Linked DNA regions of Homo sapiens. The protein of the gene in region 3 interacts with the protein of the main gene of each other region in a pairwise test. Each region holds a gene or a part of one and is shown on either strand. Other genes may lie near its edges.

Evidence for each region.
Region 1: the proteins of ANKRD50 (region 3) and CLNK interact in a two-hybrid assay, tested with the Homo sapiens proteins (one large-scale study listed by BioGRID and IntAct).
Region 2: the proteins of ANKRD50 (region 3) and ANKRD28 interact in a two-hybrid assay, tested with the Homo sapiens proteins (one large-scale study listed by BioGRID and IntAct).
Region 4: the proteins of ANKRD50 (region 3) and ZNF250 interact in binary tests that used the Homo sapiens proteins (3 or more experiments, as listed by UniProt).

The regions. Positions count from the first base shown.
Region 1 is NC_000004.12:10,673,548-10,678,838, forward strand, and holds part of CLNK (cytokine-dependent hematopoietic cell linker), read right to left. Parts: intron 1-5,291. UniProt on the Homo sapiens protein: An adapter protein which plays a role in the regulation of immunoreceptor signaling, including PLC-gamma-mediated B-cell antigen receptor (BCR) signaling and FC-epsilon R1-mediated mast cell degranulation.
Region 2 is NC_000003.12:15,667,759-15,673,049, reverse strand, and holds part of ANKRD28 (serine/threonine-protein phosphatase 6 regulatory ankyrin repeat subunit A), read left to right. Parts: exon of another isoform or gene 1-1,416; coding exon of another isoform or gene 1,417-1,440; exon of another isoform or gene 1,441-1,690; intron 1,691-2,493; coding exon 2,494-2,780; 3' UTR 2,781-4,808; coding exon of another isoform or gene 4,809-5,021; 3' UTR 5,022-5,291. UniProt on the Homo sapiens protein: Regulatory subunit of protein phosphatase 6 (PP6) that may be involved in the recognition of phosphoprotein substrates. Involved in the PP6-mediated dephosphorylation of NFKBIE opposing its degradation in response to TNF-alpha.
Region 3 is NC_000004.12:124,705,218-124,710,508, forward strand, and holds part of ANKRD50 (ankyrin repeat domain-containing protein 50), read right to left. Parts: coding exon 4,783-5,291; intron 1-4,782.
Region 4 is NC_000008.11:144,876,233-144,881,523, forward strand, and holds the end of ZNF250 (zinc finger protein 250), read right to left. Parts: coding exon 5,283-5,291; 3' UTR 723-5,282; downstream 1-722. UniProt on the Homo sapiens protein: May be involved in transcriptional regulation.

The DNA of each region.
Region 1 (5,291 bases), about 110 Mb from region 3:
CTCAGCAAACTATTGCAAGGACAGAAAACCAAACACTGCATGTCCGCACTCACAGGTGGTAGTTGAACAATGAGAACATATGGACACAGGGAGGGGAACATCACACACTGGGGCCTGTCAGGGGGTGGGGGGTCTGGGGGAGTGATAGTATTAGGAGAAATAACTAATGTTAATAAAAAAAGAAGTAACCCCAACTCCCACATGGACTATGATAATGGAAGGGGAGGCAGGACTTGTAGGCTGTGGAGCGTCAGCCTTGCAGGTCTTTCTCCAACAGGTCTTACTTCAAGATCTGACCCAGATCAAAGAGTATGCAACATCTTCTTGCCTTGATTCGGAGACCTTGAGAAGCTGGAATGCCCCAGAAATGGAGCACAACTCATGGTGTGTGTGCATTCACTTTCTGTAGCAATTATTTCAGTTTCTCTTCCTGGTTAGCCACAGAAATAAAGCCCATGCATAGCTCTCTCTGTCAAAGGAATGACACTGAGGTGTCATCTGTCAGTTTTGCTTGTGGAACCCGGAGTCACAGCAGGGCACTTGGCATGGGTGATATTAATAGGTCCAGAGTCGACTCTGCTGTGGGGAAGCTGAAGGAAGCTCTGAAGGTATCAAGAGGAGACCACACCCTACTTTCAGGGACTCACTGTCAGGGAGGGACCAGGCAGAAGGAGACGTGTTGGGTGGAGCAGTGTGGAGGTACAAAGGAGCCCAGGGTCCTCCAGGAGTCCACAAGGAGAGGCTGCCTGTTTTCATGATGCCAGCTTATTTCTCCAACAAGAAAAAACACCACTGTACTGAGTGCTAGACGCCAATGCAAATCTAATTGCAAATGCCAACATGGGCAATAAAATTGCCTGAGTGTATACCAGGGCTTAAAGCCTAGGCAAAAGGGCCAGAATATGCTCATAATGAATTTACTTTGGGTTGGAACTCTGTGCTTTCATTTCATTAATACAGTTCCCATATAATTTATTAACCCTGACCTGGAACTCTTTGGGGATCCAAAATGAACCCCAGTTTGAGAAATAGTGTGTGTTGTCTCCCTACGGGGCTCACTGTACTCTCCTCCAGGTATAAAGGGGACCATGTCAAAGAGAGGTGCACAGGGTGGTTCACATCCTGAGTGGAGAGACCCCTGCCTCAACCATCTATTTGGACCAAACAACCCCACAGCTTTGGGGCGGATGGTCTCAATGATTATATTTGATTAGCTCATTAAGTAATTTGTGGTTTGAAAATGCTTTGTAAAGATAACGGATTTGATTTCATTGTTCAACCCCCATTTATGAGTAAGAACATGTGGTGTTTGGTTTTCTGTTCCTGTGTCAGTTTGCTAAGAATGATGGCCTCCAGCTTCATCCGTGTTCATGTTCATGAGAATACATGGACACAGGGAGGGGAACATCACACACTGGGGCCTGTTGGGGGGTTTGGGGCAAGGGGAGGGAGAGCATTAGGACAAATACCTAATTAGGACAAAGCATGTGGGGCTTAAAACCTAGATGATGGGTTGGATGGATGCAGCAAACCACCATGGCACATGTTTACCTACGTAACAAACCTGCAGGTTCTGCACATGTATCCCAGAACTTAAAGCATGAAATAAAAGATAATGGATTTGAGGGTTAAAGAATCACACCTATATTTTAGAAAACTAAAATAAAGAAAACAGGGTTCTGCAGATGAAAGTATCTATAAGATTTCCAAAGAACATACATTCGATTTGGGCACTAAAACCAGGATGCCTGCTTCTGAGCTCAGAACCCACCTGGGGTCTGAGTGAATGTTTTAAGAAGCAGAGACTTGTTTTATAAATAGGCTGGATTTTCACGTGTCTTAATTCAAAAATAATTAATATCCTTATGGTATCACAAGCAGTTTAAACAATTAGAAATATGTAATGCAACAATCGCATTTCCTTGTTACCCTTGAGAACTCTTGTTCTCCACTGGGAATTCACCAGTACTACCAAACTGAGCTTGCAAAGAGACATTTATCATAAATATTGCTGCTGCATTTCACCTGATCCAAAATTAATATTTCATGAAGAAAAAAATGCTTTTAGGGTAAAGAAATTGTTTTGTTCCCAAACATTAGTTATTTATTCCTAGAAGATAATGCTTATGAAAATACTGGCCTCTATTTATTTAAAAGCTTAGGAAATGTCATTCTAATAATATCTACAAGATACCTTCTAGATATAGGAAATGACCAAAAGCAAACTGTGAACGGCTAAAGAAAAGCTTTGAATGAATCGAGAAGGTAGGAGGTAGTTGTGCAATTAAAACTGGGTCAAGGCTCAAGAATAAGGTCTATATTAAGGCTTAAGGCTTTCTTTTATCATTAAAACAGGAAAAAAGGAAAAGAATATAAAACCCACACAATACACATCTGACTTTTTCTGCACAATCACATCACACATATCCAAAATGGTGAATGATTTTTGGAATTGAGAAAGGGAGCATGTGTGTATATTTGGAGAAGAGAGCCAGAAGAGTGTGTGTGTGTGTGTGTGTGTGTGTGTGTGTCTATGTGTGTGTGTGTTTGCACACACATAGGAGCTTTGAGTAAACATGTCGAAATCAAGATTTCTCAGATACAGATGATATTAATTTGGTTCCAATTCAGAGTTATATGTATTTTCTTTAATTTTCATATCAAAAATGAGAAAGTTACATTTTAGAGATGCTCATACTTAGAGGAAAATATATGCTGATTGGATTTCTAATTCTATACCCCAGTCAGATCAATCAGCTCAATTTAATTAAATATAACATTTAATTTTATTGGATTTCCATTGAGTGGAGGCCTTTGAAGTCAAATGCATTGTTATTATAGATTTCTTTTTTTTTTTTTTTGAGGGGTAAGGGAGAGTGCTTTCCTAGTTTTTCTGCTATTATGTATGGCACATTTTTATAAAATTTTGCAACTGTCCTGGTAATGAGTAACTTCCCTTGAGTATCTCAAGGCAATGTGACTGTGCATTCATTTTAATTTTAAATGATTTTGAAAACACTCTTAATGAACTGATGCAATCTATAGTTTCTGAATTTATTATTCCTGTTGAGTTTTGTTTTTAAAAACCATTTCCTTTTTTCTCTTCAGCTGCCTGATTCTGCAGAAAGGGTTTCCTTCCTTTAGTGGTAAGATTCTTTCTCTCTCCTCTTATTCCACTTTGTGGTGAATAGACTTTTTATCCTTTTTCCTGTTCATTTAGCTTTCTCATGTTCCTTTCCTTCCTCTATCCTTCATTTTTCTTCCTTCTCCTCCTTCTTTTTTCTTTGGCTCTTCCTTCTCTCTGCTCTTATTATTAAAGTGATTTTTACTGTTCACGTAAAGTGAGATTGTAGAAAAATAGTCTCCAAGTTTGCCAAAATCCTAACAGATATTTTATTTTATTATTTTTAAGTTTACCTCTGTCTCGCCCCTATTTTTTTTTTTTTTGGCTTCCATAAATGATGGCAGAACCACATTGATTAGAGGCAGGCACTTCTAGGCCTGGATTAAATCAGAACTTACCCAACTGTGATTGTTTCTCCATTGCTTGATTAATGCATTGAGATGGTACTGAAGGCAAATTTTAGAGGAAAAAAAGTATAAGAAAATAAACTAAGATTTAGGGATTGCTATATATTTACCACCATTTACAGGTTGGCCCTGCGGTGAAGATAAGGGTGAAGATAGATCCAGTAAACCCCACCATTCCCATGGACGTCTAAAGGCTAATGGCAAAAACACTGTAATTTTTTTCAACATTCATTTATTAAGCACCTGATGTATGCTGGTGATTTTCTGAGGAGCTGTTTTATGATCAGGAGAGCCTGAAAAATTTGTGAGGGAAATTTAAAATCCAAAGGAGAAACACAAAAGCCCAGGTAGTCTAAACAAGACTGGAAAAGAGTAATACAACTTAGAGTAGTAGTAATATGGTTTAGCTGTCTGTCCCCACCTAAATCTCATCTCGATTTGTAATCCCCAGGTGCTGAGGGAGGGAGGAGGTGATTGGATCATGGGGGTGGTTTCCCCCATGATGTTCTTGTGATAGTGGGTGAGTTCTCACAAGATCTGATGGTTTTATAAGGCAGTTTTCCATGCTCTTCTTCACTCTTCTCTCTCCTGCTGTCTTGTGGAGAAGGTGGCTGCTTCCCCTTCTGCCATGATTGTATGTTTCATGAGGCTTCCCCAGCCATGTGGAACTGTGAGTCAATTAAACCTCTTTCCGTTATAAACTACTCAGTCTCAGAGAAGTGCTTTACAGCAGTGTGAAAATGGACTAATAAAAATAGCAATAATAATAATAATAATAATAATACCATTTACTGCTTACCAGAACCGTATGTAGGGCATTTTGTTTAATTTAGTTTCCGTTATACAGCAACAATCCAAATGACCTAGATTTTTCAGCATTGAACAATCCTGTCATTCTGTGCAAGAGACTTCTTCTGAGCCAAGCTTGTCCAGTGAACAAATGCACAGTGTGGATCCAGATGAGATCATCATTTCATCTGTAACTTCGAGTACATTTAGAACCTAACTCCTGAATTAAACTTCCCCTTGCATAATTAACTATTTCTTTTTCTCTTCTTTTATTCAGGATCACTTATCTAGCAAGATGGGAGACAAATCTTTCAACCCAGGTATGCTGAATTATACAGTGAATTGTACAACTTGAGTCTCAGCTTCTCTAATCTGAAAGATGAGGCTATGAGTGCTCATCCTTCTTTGCTCATAGGATTATTTTGAAGACCAAGTAAGATGATGAAAGTGAAAGCACTCTGTAAAGTATAAACCGCTATGCAAGAATAGTTCCACAGATAATTACTGAGTAATTTCTTTGCATCAGTGCCGTGAAAAACTCTGAGGATTTGAAATTTGGCTAGGAAGGTATTCCAAAATAATTTCTATTATTTTTCATTAAATCTTAATATTTTCAGAGGATTAGCACATTTGAGGAATTGTAAGACACCCAAGGCTTTGATAGATGAATAATAAAAAATAAATAAGAATATGATGAAATTAGTTTCTGTAGAAATCACCTTAAAATAGAACTTCTTCAGGTCAAATATCTAGAAAACCCCATCATCTCAGCCCAAAATCTCCTTAAGCTGATAGGCAACTTCAGCAAAGTCTCAGGATACAAAATCAATGTGCAAAAATCACTAGCATTCTTATACACCAATAACAGACAAACAGAGAGCCAAATCATGAGTGAACTCCCATTCACAATTGCCTCAAAGAAAATAAAATACTTACAAGGGATGTGAAGGACCTCTTCAAGGAGAACTACA
Region 2 (5,291 bases), on a different chromosome or scaffold from region 3:
GTCCTAGCACTTTGGGAGGCACAAGGCGAGTGGATCACCTGAGGTCAGGAGTTCGAGACCAGCCCCGCCAACATGGCAAAACCCCGTCTCTACTAAAAATACAAAAATTAGCCAGGTGTGGTGGCATGTGCCTGTAATCCTAGCTACTTGGGAGGCTGAGGCAAGAGAATCGCTTGAACCCAGGAGGCAGAAGTTGCAGTGAGCCGAGATCATGCCAGTGCACTCTAGCCTGGGTGACAGAGCCAGACTTCGTCTCAAAAAATAACCCCCATGCAGAGGAGAGGAGCCTGTTTTTAGTCATATTCTGACTAGAAAACACACCTGAAACAAGCTTCTTTCCCCACTCCCGCTCTCATCCAAGGCATCCTGGCCTATGTAATGGGTTGTTCTGCCTGCCAGCAGCAGGAACAGCAGCAGGCACCTTTAGAAGAACCCTTGAAAGAAGTGTGGGCAGTGAAGCACTCCCCCAGCTACTTTGAACAAATAAAATTTAATTAAAAATACGGACAGCCTTCAGCCACTGCTGCCAAACTTGGAAGGACATCAGTTGTTCTCTTTGACCCTTGACAAAATGGGAACTTTACAAAGGGGGAAAAATTACTTTTTGTGGCTGGGCACAGTGGCTTACTCCTATAATCCCAGCACTTTGGGAGGCAGAGGCGGGAAGATCACTTAAAGCCAGCAGTTTGAGACCAGCCTGGGGAACAAAGCGAGACCCTGTATCTACAAAAAAGTTTAAAAATTAGCCAGGCATGGCATGTGCCTATAGTCAGAGCTAGTCAGGGGGCTGAGGTGGGAGGATCACTTGAGCCCAGAGGTTGAGGGTGCAGTGAGCATGATCATTATACTGCACTCCAGCCTGGGTGACAGAACAAGACCCTGTCTCAAAAAAAAAAAAAAAAATCCTTTTTTTATCAAGGCCAATATAGCATAGATGAAAATATGTGGGAGAACTGGAAGCAACCAGATGCCCAGTAGTTGAAATGTATAACTAAACCATAGTATAATCACACAATGAAATACTGTATAACAATGAAAATGAACCAACTACAGTTACATACAACATTGATAAATTTCATATAATGCTACACAAAAATGCCAGATATGAAATAATACATACTACATGATTCCATTTATATTAAGTTTTTTAAAAACTCTAAACTGTAGGCTGGGTAAGGTGGTTCACATCTGTAATCCCAGCATTTGGGAGGCCGAGGCAGGCAGATCACTTGAGGCCAGGAGTTTGAGACCAGCCTGGCCAACATAGCGAAATCCCATCTCTACTAAAAATATAAAAAATTAGCTGGTCATGGTGGCACACACGTGTAATCCCAGCTACTCAGGAGGCTGAGGCAGGTGAATCACTTGAACCCAGGAGGCAAAGGTTGCAGTGAGCCAAGTTTGCACCACTGAACTTCAGCTTGGGTGACCGAGCAGACTCTGTCTCAAAAAAAAAAAAACAAAAAAAAAACTATAGTGTTTATGACTCCAAGTTGAAAGCAAGGAAATTACTACCCCATAAGTCAGGATAGTAGTTACCATTGTGGAAGAAGAAAGGTGTAACGACTGGGTAGAGGATATATGGAGGCTTCTGGTATGCTGGTAATGTTCTCTTTCTTAATCTGTATGGTGGTTATACAAATGTATGTTATGTGATAAAACTATTAAAGTTCCATATGGTATAATTGAAGCTTGGCATCACACTATTATCACTTCTCTCCCGCTCCGTCCTCAAGACTGAGTCTTGTACCAACTGAGGTACCAAATGTTTCCTCCTTGGTTTGCTGTGTTGACACTTTGTGGTAACTTACGACTAAGGTCAGTTGTCTTCCGCTTAAAAAAAGGGAATATTTACAAAGGAAATATTTGTTTTGATTTAGTAGTTTTTAAAGTTCATCTGCTTAGTTTGTCTACTGTTTTTCTTCAAGAGACTGTGACCCCAAGAGAAAAGTTAAATTGACAACTAAGTGTCATTCATTCAACACATATCTTTTGAGCACCTGCCCTGTGGCTGATTCATGAAGCTGTACACATTTAAGATTTCTTAGCATCAAAAAGTTTCCTTACATAACTACAAATTAAATTTTTTTATTTTTTCTTACCTTGACACTGATATAACTGCAAATTAACAGTAAATCTCTGCCTACCATCCTGAAAGAATATTCACGATATGTGGTGTTTTTCTTATTCTAGCCCAGTTTTTTCTGTGAATTCAGATGGATACGGATAAGTTGTGAGACCTTGGGGAATCATTCTTCTCTGGGCCTGCTTCCTCTTCTGTTGTCTAGTCTAACATCCCCTTCCACCCTAGGTTTCTATGGCTATTCTTTTTCTACTTATTAGAAACTTGCGAATCATGCTGGTTACAGCAATTTATTATAAGCTAAGTAATGTAAAATATGTCTAAAGTTGAAGTACTTTAGGCTTATTTCCTTGTCTTTGGTGAAATACATCTCAGGATGCTTAATTTTTAAATTTTATCTTTAATTCTAGGCTATACCCCAGCTTTGGCCTGTGCTCCCAATAAGGATGTGGCTGATTGCCTGGCTCTCATTTTGGCCACCATGATGCCTGTCTCATCAAGTAGTCCTTTATCATCCTTAACATTCAATGCCATTAACCGTTATACCAACACCTCAAAAACAGTCAGCTTTGAAGCTTTGCCCATCATGAGGAATGAACCTAGCTCCTATTGCAGTTTCAATAACATTGGAGGGGAACAGGAGTACTTATACACTGACGTGGATGAGCTCAACGACTCCGATTCTGAGACCTACTGAGAGGCTGAGGAGGAGGGAGTTCTCACAGTAAAGCTTCAAACTGTGCTTTTTCAGGAAAAAGGCACTTTGATATTCACGTAGAAATTCAACCTAAGAGGAAAGATCCCACAGTGAGCCAATGTTAAGAGATCTGATGGCATTAGGAGGAAGAGTTTTAAAGGCAAGTTTTACAAAAGGAACTTCTAGAATCTTGAAATAGACCTGACTGAGGAAAACACATTGATGTCAGAATTCTTTGTGGAATTGTTTAATTTGGTTTTGCAGTGCCAGGAACAATTGGGGACACTGTGCACTCTAACCTGCTTACACAAGCAACACTATTGTAACAGAAGAAATAAAGACACTAGATTTAAATTTTATCAATAAAATTACAACTAAATTTAAAGGCAATAAAAGTTTGGTACAGTAGGCATTATGTGCACAGCAAATTGCAAAAGGACCAAATAACTGAAAGGTTTTTTTAATAAAATGCCATTTTGTGGAAACTGGAGTAGATTAAATGAAACATTACCTAAACCAAACTGCAATATTTCTGGAAATGAAGCTGAGATTTGGTTTTAAATGTTGAGTTTTTTTGGGTTTTGTTTTTTTTTTAAGAAAACATCTGAAAGCCTTCCAATGCTGTATTAAACCATGAGAGAAAGCAGATGTATTTTTACATTTTTTTCTTTTACAGAACTATTTCAAATTTCCAATTTTTATACTATTAGAATTAAAAACCAGCTGACTGGGTGCAATACGGGTGAAAATACTTGTGACATAGACATTGAGATGGATTGGGGTCAGGCTGTTGCCCTGTTTTGAATGGTTTGGGTTTAAAATAGTACTATTTTTGTTTGAAAATGTAAAGAATTTCCTAGAAAAAAATTCATGAAATCAAAAAGTAGACTATTTCACCCTATTGCAGCTAAGTGGTCCTGGGGCATGGAGTCTTCAACCTCTCTATGAATGGCACACCTTAGTCACTTATGTTACTTTTGTGTCCCCACCATGGGTTGGGGGATTTTTTGTTTATTCTGATCTATGAGTTTTGAAAAAGTGAATAATCAAAAGGAAAATAATTCCTTGTTGTTCATAAATTAAGCATCACTAAAGTCTCTTGAAAGGCATTTCTGTATTGGGCAAGATTTAAAATACTAAAGCCTTAGGTCCTATTCATATTTAAAGTAGCATGTTTGTAACCTGTTACTATTTGGAGAGAGAAGCAGTTGCCTGCCAAATTGAAGACTACCTTTCAAATAGCAAAAGAGAGAGAGAAGGCTGATATTTCGGCTTTTAAATAAAGATTTGTGTGGTTCTGCTTTTACTGTAACTGTCACTTTCCCAGTGAAAATGATTTCATATACATTGAGGGTCTTACAGGTATGGGTAAAGTTCTATAAATTGCAACAAAATGATACCCAATTTCATTTTATCCTTTTTGTATTGTGAAACTGGAAACTTTATGACATTGTAAATTATCAGCTGGTTTTTCTGAATATAAAGTGTGAAAACACAGAACAGTATTTTGATCTATTTGATAATTTTGTGGGTTTTTTGAAGAATTAATGAGCATGTACATAGAAATAGTGACTGCTTGAATACTGTATTTACTTGCACTCTTTCAGTACATCAAGATTCCTGTATATTTTAGAGTATAATAAAACACAGATGTGAGTTGTATTTAATGAATAATGTATTTGTATCTGTGCATATTATCTACAAATCTATAAAGTTTCTAGGGCATTGACTACTAGATTTTAAGCATTTTTTCTAAAATATTTACAGAAATTATAAATCTAATCCCCCATCTTTTCTTTATAATATAAAGAAGTCATAATGAACCCTTCCTAATTATTAGTAGTAGGAAGGTGAATATGCATTTTAATGACAGTGGACTACATTTTCTATTGTACCTTTTGAAAAAAAAAAAAATCAAGCAGATTCTAAAAGTATACATATGTGTGCTTTCTCTTTCCTTTTAGGAATTCTCTTCTGAATTCCCTGAGGGAATTTTCTAGAATCTCAGAATTGAAAGAGACCTGAGGTTCATCCAGTCTCTAACCTCTTAACAAATGCAGGAGTCCCTTCTACAAGGGTGATCTTTCCACCTTGAACACTTCCAAGTGACTCTACCTCACCAAGCAGTCCATTCAGTTGTTGAGCAGCTCTAACTGTTAGAAAGGTCTTCCTTAGATGGAGTTGAAGCCTCCCTCCCGGTAACTTCTGTCTTTGGGCCTGGGTCTGTCCTCCAAGAGAACCCTGAGAATGTTGGAAGGATGAATCTCGCACATTCTGCCATGTCTTCTCTTTTACAGGCTGTTTGACTTCTCTGCTGAAGTGATTTCCAGAAGGACTCATTTGACACACTATTAGATTTACCACATCTAATGAAATCCAAGGTGTAGCTATAAAGTGACAAGCTGTTTTTAATTTATCACATACACCAGAACTTCTATCCTGCATCACTTATATGTAAATGATGCTGTTACCAAAAACATTAAGGTAGTTCTTGCGAATGCCACCCCACTA
Region 3 (5,291 bases):
ATGATTCCCATTTGACACACAAAACAAATGTCAGTATTTGGTCTCCCAGTTTGCACTCTTTTTCAAACAAGGCATACTGCCTTTCACCATTAGCACAAATTTTCTATTAAACTCTCAAAACTTAGAGTTATTCATCTTTAATTCTTTATTGCAATTTTACTCCATTTACACTTAACCCGTGTTACCCCTGAAGATATTTAATTTTTCCTATTAACATTACACAGAACAAAATATTTCTACCCAACATAGGAAAACTGACATCACATATCTGGTCCTGCAGACTGTTAACAAGAAATAAAAGTGAGGTAATGACATACACTAAGAACAAAAATTTGTATTTCCCAACACCATATCCTTTTAAATCTCCAAAACGATTTCTGTTCAAAGTCCAGAAAGGTGTTTCTGGTTGATTGAAACAGCTATCTTCTAAACCAGCCACAAAACCTAATGCTACCACCCTCCACCCCTCACTAACTTAGTTGCTTGAGTTTTTTGTCAAAAATAATTGGAATTTGTTTTATAATTATAGGACTACTAGGAGTCCACCTCTAACACTAACTCTAGAAAAGACACAGTCAATGTAAAATATACAAAGTTTTGCACTAAAGGCCTAAAGTGGGAGGCAGAATTAAAGAAATCAGCCTTTGGCTCTCAAAGTAAGTAAAAATATAAACATCAACTTAGTTTCAGAAATGAGGAAATAAAATATTGTAAAGAAATTAACAATAGCATTGTACTTTAACCAGATACGAAAAATAAAAATGAAAAAAAGATAGCAATGTGTCTTCATATCATTCCCTTTAGCAGATCACAAAATTCTATTAATGTTTAAATGTTCATGTGTTTCATGAACACTGTAACAAGTATTTACTCTGATGGTTATTTCTCTCTATATGAATAAGATAAATATTAATGTTAGAATTTGAGTTCCATGAAGGCAGAATTCTGTCTGTTCTATTCCCTGATTTATCTCCAGCTGAACTCTACCTAACACACAGAAGGTTCTTAATAAATAACGCAAATGAACTATGCTTCAAACGGAGAACACTCTCATTATTTGTCATACAAATAAATGAATGTCAGAAGAAATTTCGTGACAACTATATCTAAAAAACTATAGAATATACTATACCATGTCAGAAGGGAAGAAAGTGGCAATGTTTCACTAGATTAAGATGAAGTTCCTTTCACTCTTCCTTAATTATTATGAACTAGTAATTAACAAATTACGATTTAGCCATATAATTTCATGTATCACGTATTCTATCTACTATCATTAGGCACAAAAAAAATTAAAGAAAGCTAAGAAGCAAACTGAAGAAAAGATAAGTGGATTTAAAAAGCATCAAGTAAATCACTTCTCTGCAATTTCCCCAGCTTTGTGAATCTGTGAATAACTGAGATTTTTTCATTATCAACTTTCTATAACTATTAAAATTGTTTCACACATGAATACGGATGCTCCTTAACCTATGATAGGATTACACCCTGATAAATCCATTATATGTTGAAAATATCTTAAGTCAAAAATGCATCTGATAACTCTCAACCTACCAAACATCATCGCTTAGCCTACCCTACCTTAAGCATGCTCAGAATACTTACATTAGTCTACACTTGAGCAAAAGTATCTAACACAAAGTTTATTTTATAATGAAGTGTTGAATATATCATGTAATTTATTGAATACTATATTGAAAGTAAAAAACAGAACAGTTGTATGGGTACTCAAAGTAAGGTTTCTACTAAATACATATTGCTTTCTCACCATCCTAAAGTCAAAGAATCTTAAGTTGAACTATTATAAATTGGGAAAAGTCTGTATATGAAACCATCAATATTAGCAGAAATTTAAAGGTTAAAAAGTAATAATGCAAAAACTGGTTTTGGATTTAGTTTTTGTCAAAAGCGAAAAATAAATATTTTCCTGCTGTTTGCTTACATTTATATTTAATCTCCTGTCATGTTATAATTAGCTACTTCCATTTCCATTTCCCTCAAAATATTGTAACTCTTTGGAAACAATGGTTTTCAGCCCCATTTTCCACCTGTTGAATTATATCTATCCATGCCTAAATAAAATACGTTCCTATTAAAATTCTCTAAAGGACTTATTTAAGAAATCTGTCAATCAATAATAGAACCTACAATAAAATCTTGAATTATTTGTCCAAAAGTAGAAGCCTAGATAATGTAATATCACATACCAAACAAAAATACATCTTTTTAACTTTGAATTGTGCTCTCAGGTTTGCAAGTGAATATAGCTGTATTATAGCTTCACAGTTGTAATGGAAATGTGTCTCTATGAATGATCAAAAAGAGTGTTTCAATACCATAGTTCCCTAATTAATATCATGATCAATTACTTTAACGATGAAGAAAGAAAGTGACTCAGGTTTTTGAAAAGTCCAGTAAGAAATCAGTGAAGAGCACCAAAATGGTCCAAGTAGAAAGACTAAAGCCTTCTCTTTTATTAAAGTGTAAACTGGGAATGCAAAGTGATTGGCTCCTTCTGTCAATCAGAAAAGCAGGGCTGGTATGGTTTTTACACACAGCTCTAATTGCTTCTTCTTCCTCTTCAATTAGCTAATAACTGAGAATCACACAGGAAAAAGAAAAAATAAAAGAAACAATTGAATAAAAGAATTATTTTTCAGGAAAATCTATGATACCATAGAGAAAGCTATGCTTAGGATCAGAATATATCAAAAATACAGTAATCAGACATGATTTTTAAACATTCAACATTCAGGTATCAGAAATTTACATATGAATTTCAATAAATTATAAATTACATACCTTGGTTACATCAGATTAAGTTCACCTCAGACTAAGCTCTTTGAAAGTTATTGGTAGGTGTCAATAAACCTAAATAGCTTATGAAATTACTTATCACAAAGAAATGAAAATTCTGCTCTGCCACTAGTATCTTCAGAAAAAGCAGTAAGAAGAAAAGAGTTGCTTATGTACAGTTTTAATTCTATTAAAAGGTATAGTTTTATATTAAAGACTACATTATTTATTCTGTACAGTGATTCCATATTGAACACTCTCCATCAAACCTTGCATCTCACATGCCACAGGCATCAACTAACAGATTTCCTCATTAATTTAAGAATGATACAACAGTTTTAACGCTGACTTTGATGGCTAACAACAAAAGATAATAGATTTGCCTTTAGTTTTATTGGACTAAATTTACATATTAAAGAGTCTACAAGAATATCACACCTCTCAAAGATACATCCCTTTGGCTGACTTTAATAAATTCCTCCCATATTTGAATTCTGTACCATCCCTAACTCTCATTCTAGAATACCACTCCCTCTATCACTATATGGGTAATCTGAAAACCACACTCAAACCACACTGTGACACAACTCCTGTTCTCCAGCTTTGCCATACATAACCTTCTAAACCCCTCCTCTTCCCATCAAGTCCCCCAGAGAATTTCTAAGATTACTAACACATACACACACACACACACACACACACACACATACACACACACACATTTAAAATCTCAGCCCTGCCATTTACTAGTCTGTAACCTTGAACAATTTATTTAGCCTCTCTGTACCTTAGTTTCCTCATCTATAAAATGGGAGTAGTAACTACCTCACAGGATTATTATGAGGATTAAATGATCTAATATTTGTAAAGCACTTAGAATAATGACTGACACTTACTGTTTACTGTAATTACTATTAAATATTTTCAATATTACTTTCAAAATGTATAGATTTCACCCCATTAGATTTGAGGATATCATAAAAACAAACATCACTCTTTTTAGAGTGATTCAAATCTCTCCTAGAAACACACTCAAGCAGAAGAGAGCCACACACACACACACACACAAACCTCCAGTGCACAGTATACCAGAATCTTTGGAGAACAAACTTTTGCCCGCTAAGAATGTTATTGTAGAGAAAAAGCTTATGGCAAAATGGGTAATTCAAGCAGAAGTGAAGCACAAACTAACAATTTGCCTGCTACTTTTACAATGAGCAGAGGCATGATATGCAAAAAAAAATGTTTTCAAGGAATTATATTTTCTTGAACAGATTTGAATCTGAAACCACTCTGGAAAGCAACTTGCTCACTTCCTGGACCAATCCATTTACCATGGAAAAAAAGCTTTGCTGAAGTTAGGAAAAAACACTTTCTTTGTACCACTCACTAAAAGTAAAAGTAGTAAGATGATCCCAAATGTTCGCTATTTTATAAATTCACATACTTCTAAATACCAGTTTTTCAATTAGTTAGTTAATAGGAGAATAAATCCCAAAACTCATCAGCAAATTTTCTTCAGATTCTCAGTGGCCAATAATCTCCTTTAAAGAAAACCTTTCTTACTTAAAAAAATACTACTACTATAAGGAAAAAAATAAAAAGATACTAGATGCTATACTGATAATTACTCTAAGTTCAGTTCACCCTCTGAAAATGTAACCTATTTCCAGACAGCTAAATGTGCTTCTCTACCATAAGAACAAATTTCCCTTACCATTTATAGGCAATGTAAGTAACATTATGTTATTAAGTAAAATTAAGATACACTTTTAATCCATTTTAATCCATATGCTGTGCAATACCAAAACCTAAATTTTACTTCCTTTGATATTCAAAGTAAACAGGTATACTCATAACTTCAGATTAAGGCCAAATGTACAGCACCAGTAAAAGTAACCCACAAAGTTAAAACAAAAAACTACAACTAAAAATTAATTTAATTTCAGCATAGAAATCTGAACACCATGACATTTTTATTGTTACCTTTTAAATGCTTCGGCTGGGTTTCTCTCGCACTCCCCAGGCTGTAAGAGGCTTTGGACTGCTGGATCCCTTAGCTTGTCCTCATATCCTTGGAGTAGTCCACTGCGGCAGATCTGGGCTACTAGACCTCTAATAAACCCTCCAACACACAAAGTATCAGAGTCCTGGGCTTTGCAGAAATGAAAGGCCAAAGCTTGGCGATGTAAACCTCTCTGCAAACTTGCAGGTGAACTTGGCCATAAGAGTTCAGTACATAGGGCCGTCTTGCCACTGCCAGGCCCTCCTACCAACAACACACCCCAGGCAGCTCCCTTTCCAGAGACACCACTAGCATTATTCCCAGAATTCATTACAAGTGATGGTGCATTGACAGCACTATTGCAGCAGTTACTTTTCTCCTGGAGGCAATGCTGAAGCTTGTGGAAAACCCACTCCCTACAGTAAAACTGCTTCCCTTGCAGTAAACTGGTTTGAGCCATTTTGCAGACTTTCTCTTCCCAAGGATTAGT
Region 4 (5,291 bases), on a different chromosome or scaffold from region 3:
CTCTTTGCAATAAATCTAGCTACTGCTCACTCTTTGGGTCCACACTGCTTTTACGAGCTGTAACACTCACCGCGAAGGTCTGCAGCTTCACTCCTGAAGCCATCGAGACCATGAACCCACCGGGAGGAATGAACAACTCCAGACGCACCACCTTAAGAGCTGTAACACTGACCGCGAAGGTCTGCAGCTTCACTCCTGAGCCAGTGAGACCACGAACCCACCAGAAGGAAGAAACTCTGAACACGTCCGAACATCAGAACGAACAAACTCCAGACACACTGCCTTTAAGAACTGTAACACTCACCACGAGGGTCCGCAGCTTCATTCTTGACGTCAGTGAGACCAAGAACCCACCAATTCCGGACACAAAGGGATGAGTCATACCACTGTCTCCTCACACCGGACATGGGATAGCCACAGCAGAAGCCACTTTATGGCCCAGAGAAATTCCAGGGAAAAAGGATTGTATTAATTGATAACATCATCAGCAATGCATGAAAGCACACATCTCCTCATACCTGGTCATTACAGGATAATCTTTACTAACTGATTAGTGGGTAGCATGTTGTTATTTGTTTTGGGATTGGTACACTTGAGCCTTTTCCAAGCTTCCATGGTTGTATATTCTCTTATTTGGAGTGGTCTGTTCATGTCCTATGGTCACTGATTTGTAGGAGATCTTTATGCCAAAGTTACTGATCTTTCTTCACTGCAAATACTTGTTCCAGTCATTACTTTTTTATTGGAAAGCGTCAGATTATACACAGAAATTCCAGGCAGACTAAAATGTTTTCCAAAATAATAGAAAATTTGAAGAGAACCAAGTTTCAAATTCTTAATAGCTGTTAGAAGAAACAATTTTAAAAGAAATATATACGTATTTTTTGTGACAAGGTCTCTCTCTGTTGTCCAGGCTAGATAGTATGATCACAGCACACTAGTCTTGAACTCCCAATCAATCCTCCCACCTTAGCCTCCCACGTATCTGGGACTACAGGCGCAAGCCACAACACCCAGCTAATTTTTTTTTTGTAGAGACGGGTTTTCGCCATGCTGGTCTCAAAGTCCTGGGCTCAAGCGATCCACCCACTTCAGCCTCCCAAAGTGCTGGGATTACAGGTGTGAGCCATTGCACCCAGCCAAAGAGAAGTATTTAAATACCTAAAATATACAGACTTCTGAATAAAACAAATCCAAAATAAAGGTGGAATGCTGCTGACAAATCAGGCAGAAGATAATGGTTGAGAAGACTGTTATCAGCATGAAAATTCAGGGCCCTGGCCTTTGATGTTATATCCCAAAAAGGTAGATAGCCCACATGTTCCAGTAGGTCATGTGCCACCTCTTTCTCCTTGGAGAGGAGGAGGTGAGTGGCAAGAAAATGTAGCCTGGGAATCCTCCTCAGAAAGAAGGGCATTGAAGCCCACTTCCTGGCTCCGTGGACACCTGAGCCTGCATTCTCACCAGTGGATCAATGGCAGCCTGACATAGCAAGAACAGGCAGAATGATATTAAGCTCATTTTAAGAATGCAGGAAAAAAACTATACTTTTTGGAAGGATTTCCCTGAAAACCCTAGGTTATTGGAATCCAGAATAACTTGTACTGTGTAACTTACGTTGTCCTGTGATACACAGTCTTTCTAAACAAATGTTCCTGTATATTGAATTTAATTATTCTCATCTTAATTGGAATATGACTTTGTCTTTAATGATTAGAAATTGGGGCCTGAATAGTAGTGGGCACTGAGCAGCTGCCACTGAGTCACATGCCAGCTGTGGACTCAGCTAACACAGGTTGGCAGCTTCCTTTCATAGAAGATTTAAGATAGCACCACAGTGTTCTCATTTTCTCTCAATTAATATTGAGGTGACCTCAGGTTTCTGGACTTTCATCTCAGTGATCTCATCTAGGTACCTGGGTGATCTCTTGGCTCTGAAGTAACACCTCAGTAATCTCAGTTCCTCTTTGGACTGTTACCTCAGTGATCTCAGCTCCATTCTGAAGTAACTTCTCAGTGATCATAGCTTTTCCCTAAAGTAACCTCTTTCTAAAGCATCACCCCTAGTGATCTCAACCTTTCTCTGAAGAATCACCTTAGTGATTTCAGCCACCTCTGAAGTTAACACCTGTGTGATCTCAACTCCAGTGAACAACTCAGTTATTTCATCTCCTTTCTAAAGTTAACAGCTTAGTGATCTCATTTCCTTTCTGAAGAATCACATCAGCAGTCTCAGCCTCTCTTAAGTAACATCTCTGTGATCTCAGCTTCTAACACCTGAGGGACACCATCTTGGTCCTGAATAATACCTCAGTAACCTCAGCTCCTCCCTTAAGTAACATCTCATTGGTATCAGCTTTTCTCTGAAGCAGAACCTCAGTGATCTCAGCTCCTAAGTAACATCTCAGCATTCTCATCTTTCCGATGGTACAATATAGTGATTTCACTTCCTTTATGAAATAGCACTCAGTGACCTCCATTCTTCTAGAGTTTCACATTAGTGATTTCAACTTCTCTGAAGAAACACCTCTGTGATCTCAGCTTCTCTGAAGAATTACCTCAATGATCTAATCTCTAAAGTAATACCTTAGTGATCCCATTTCCGTTATTTCAGCTCCTCTGAAGTAAACCTCAGTGGTCAGAGCTACTCTGCAGTACCCACTAGTGATGTCAATTCCTTTCAGAAGTAACACCCAGTGATCTCACCTCCTCTCTGATGAAACACCTCAGTGTACTCAGATCCTCTGAAGTAACAAAAATTGTCTCACTTTCTTTCTGAAGTGACGCCTCAGTGATCTCAGCTCTTCTCCAAAGAAACAGTTAAGCTCTTGTCTTCTCTGAACTAACACCTTAGTTATTTTATCTATCTGAAACAACACCTCACAGAATGGCAACACCTCTAAGGTTAACACCTTGGTTATCTGAGCTATCTGAGGTTTCACTTCAGTGATCTCAGTCCCTCTGAAGTAACACCTCAGTAATATTAGTTCCTCTGGAATTTCACTTCAGTGGTTTCAGTTGCTCTGAAGTAAAACACCAGTGATGTCAGCTCCTTTCTCAAGTTAACCAATCAGTTACCAGTTCCTCTCTGGAGTTAATAATTCACTGTTGTCAGTGTCTGTACATAGAAGGGGGAACAAGCTTTTGTCTACATCGTGGTGTTTTGCTGTGGACTTAAGGATCAATGCCTGGATGGGCACAGCAGCTCATGCCTGTAATCCTAACCTTTTGGGAAGGTGAGGTGGGAGGACTGCTTCAGCCCAGGAGTTTGAGGCAGCGGTGAGCCATGATGGCACCACTGCACTCCAACCTGGTGACAGAGCAAGACCGTCTTTAAAACAAACAAAAAGGATCAATATCCTGGTGACTATTTCCTCCCCACCAAACTGACAGATGTTGGGGGCGGGGGCCTGGGGTGAAGACAGCCCTTCTCTATCTCAGGCACTTAACATGTTGAGAATTTCAAGTGGCTTGAACCTCATACATTTGTTTCGTTTGCAGCTGGCTGCTACTAGAAATGGTTCTGATTCGGTTTCAAGAACTGTATCCTTGGCCGGGTGCGGTGGCACACGCCTGTAATCCCAGCACTTTGGGAGGCCGAGGCGGGCGGATCACCTGAGGTCAGGAGTTTGAGACCAGCCTGGCCAACATGGTGAAACCTCATCTCTACTAAAAATACGAAAATTAGTCGGGCGTGGTAGCAGGTGCCTGTAATTCCAGCTACTTGGGAGGCAGAGGCAGGAGAATTGCTTGAACCTGGGAGGTGGAGATTGCAGTGAGCTGAGATTGTGCCATTGCACTTCAGCCTGGGGAACAAGAGCAAGACTTTGTCTCAAAAAAAAAAAAAAAAGTATGCTTAAAACAGAACAAATAATTCTGAATACAAATTTTTAATTATGAATAAACTAGATTCATCTTCATCATAGTAATATGGCAATGGATACTGGACTCTTGAACCAGGAGTAAAAAAATGAAAAAAAAAACCCCTTCAAATATAGGAATAGAAATACTAGAGATAGTAAAAAAGAGCTATCTGAATTTGAGAAATGTATGTTTTAAATATATCTACCAAAGAACAGTATTTTCAGCATTGTTTTGGGGGAAATACCATAAGATGTAAAGAGGTACCCACTTGGTGTAACAGCTATGAGGTCTGCTGAGTGTGAAGCTCCCCTCCTTTGCCTGCATGGGAATTGAGACATCTCACGGTTTCTGGGGCACAGGATCTGCAGGTCATAAGGGCAAGTTTTGAGGAAAATACCCATTTTTGAGTTGAATTTTTACTAAAAAGTTAGCATAACCTTTCTGATCTTGAATAAAGTTAAAAGCTCCAGATAAAGGGTTTTCTAGGCCAGGCATGGTGCCTCACGCCTGTAATCCCAACACTTTCGGAAGCAAAGGTGGGAGGATCACTTGAGGCCAGGAGTTCGAGACCAGCCTGGCCAACACGGTGAAACTCCGTCTCTACTAAAAATACAAAAATTAGCCAGGTGTGGTGGCGCATATCTATAATCCTAGTTACTTGGGAGACTGAGGCACAAGAAAAGCTTGAACCTGGGGTGGGGGCGGAGACTGCAGTGAGCCAAGATCATGCCACTGCACTGCAGCTTGGGCAACAGAGCAAGACTATCTCCACACACACATACAAAAAGTTTTTTAAATTTATGTAATTTCTCACTAATATATAAGCTTTTTCCTTGTTTCATACAAAACAGGACTCCACACACTTAGGATGGAAATCCACACACTTAGGATTTCCAACCATTTTACATGATGCTTGATGAAAATATCTTTTTATATCACTTTATCCATACAATACTTTAGTCTTTTAAGAGAATACTGAAAATAGTCCGACTTTCAAATTTTAAGTGCAATAATTAGTATGGTTAATTGATATTTAGGAAGGGCATGTAATGTTCTTAGAAAAAGAACTTTATTTGGAATGTAAGATTTTATTGGGATAATGGTTCTTATGCCTTAAATTCCCTTAGTTCAAATAAACTAATGTTAAAGAATTATGGCTGTTTTTTACCAAAATTCTCTACAATTGTATGATTACTCTCCAACATAACTTCAAGATGTTGAGGAAAATAAAACAGGTAGTCTCTGAAGTTTTTCCACAGGAACAGCACGCTAAGTGCTTCTTTCTGGAGTTATTTTGTGACACTGAATCGCCAAAGAAAAGCTTCCTATAGAGTTAACAGAGACTTCTCTTGGGCTGAAGGCTGCTTGTGGTTCCACATGCAGTTTCTGTGAGAATGGATTCTTGTGTCAGCCATGGGTCACAACTT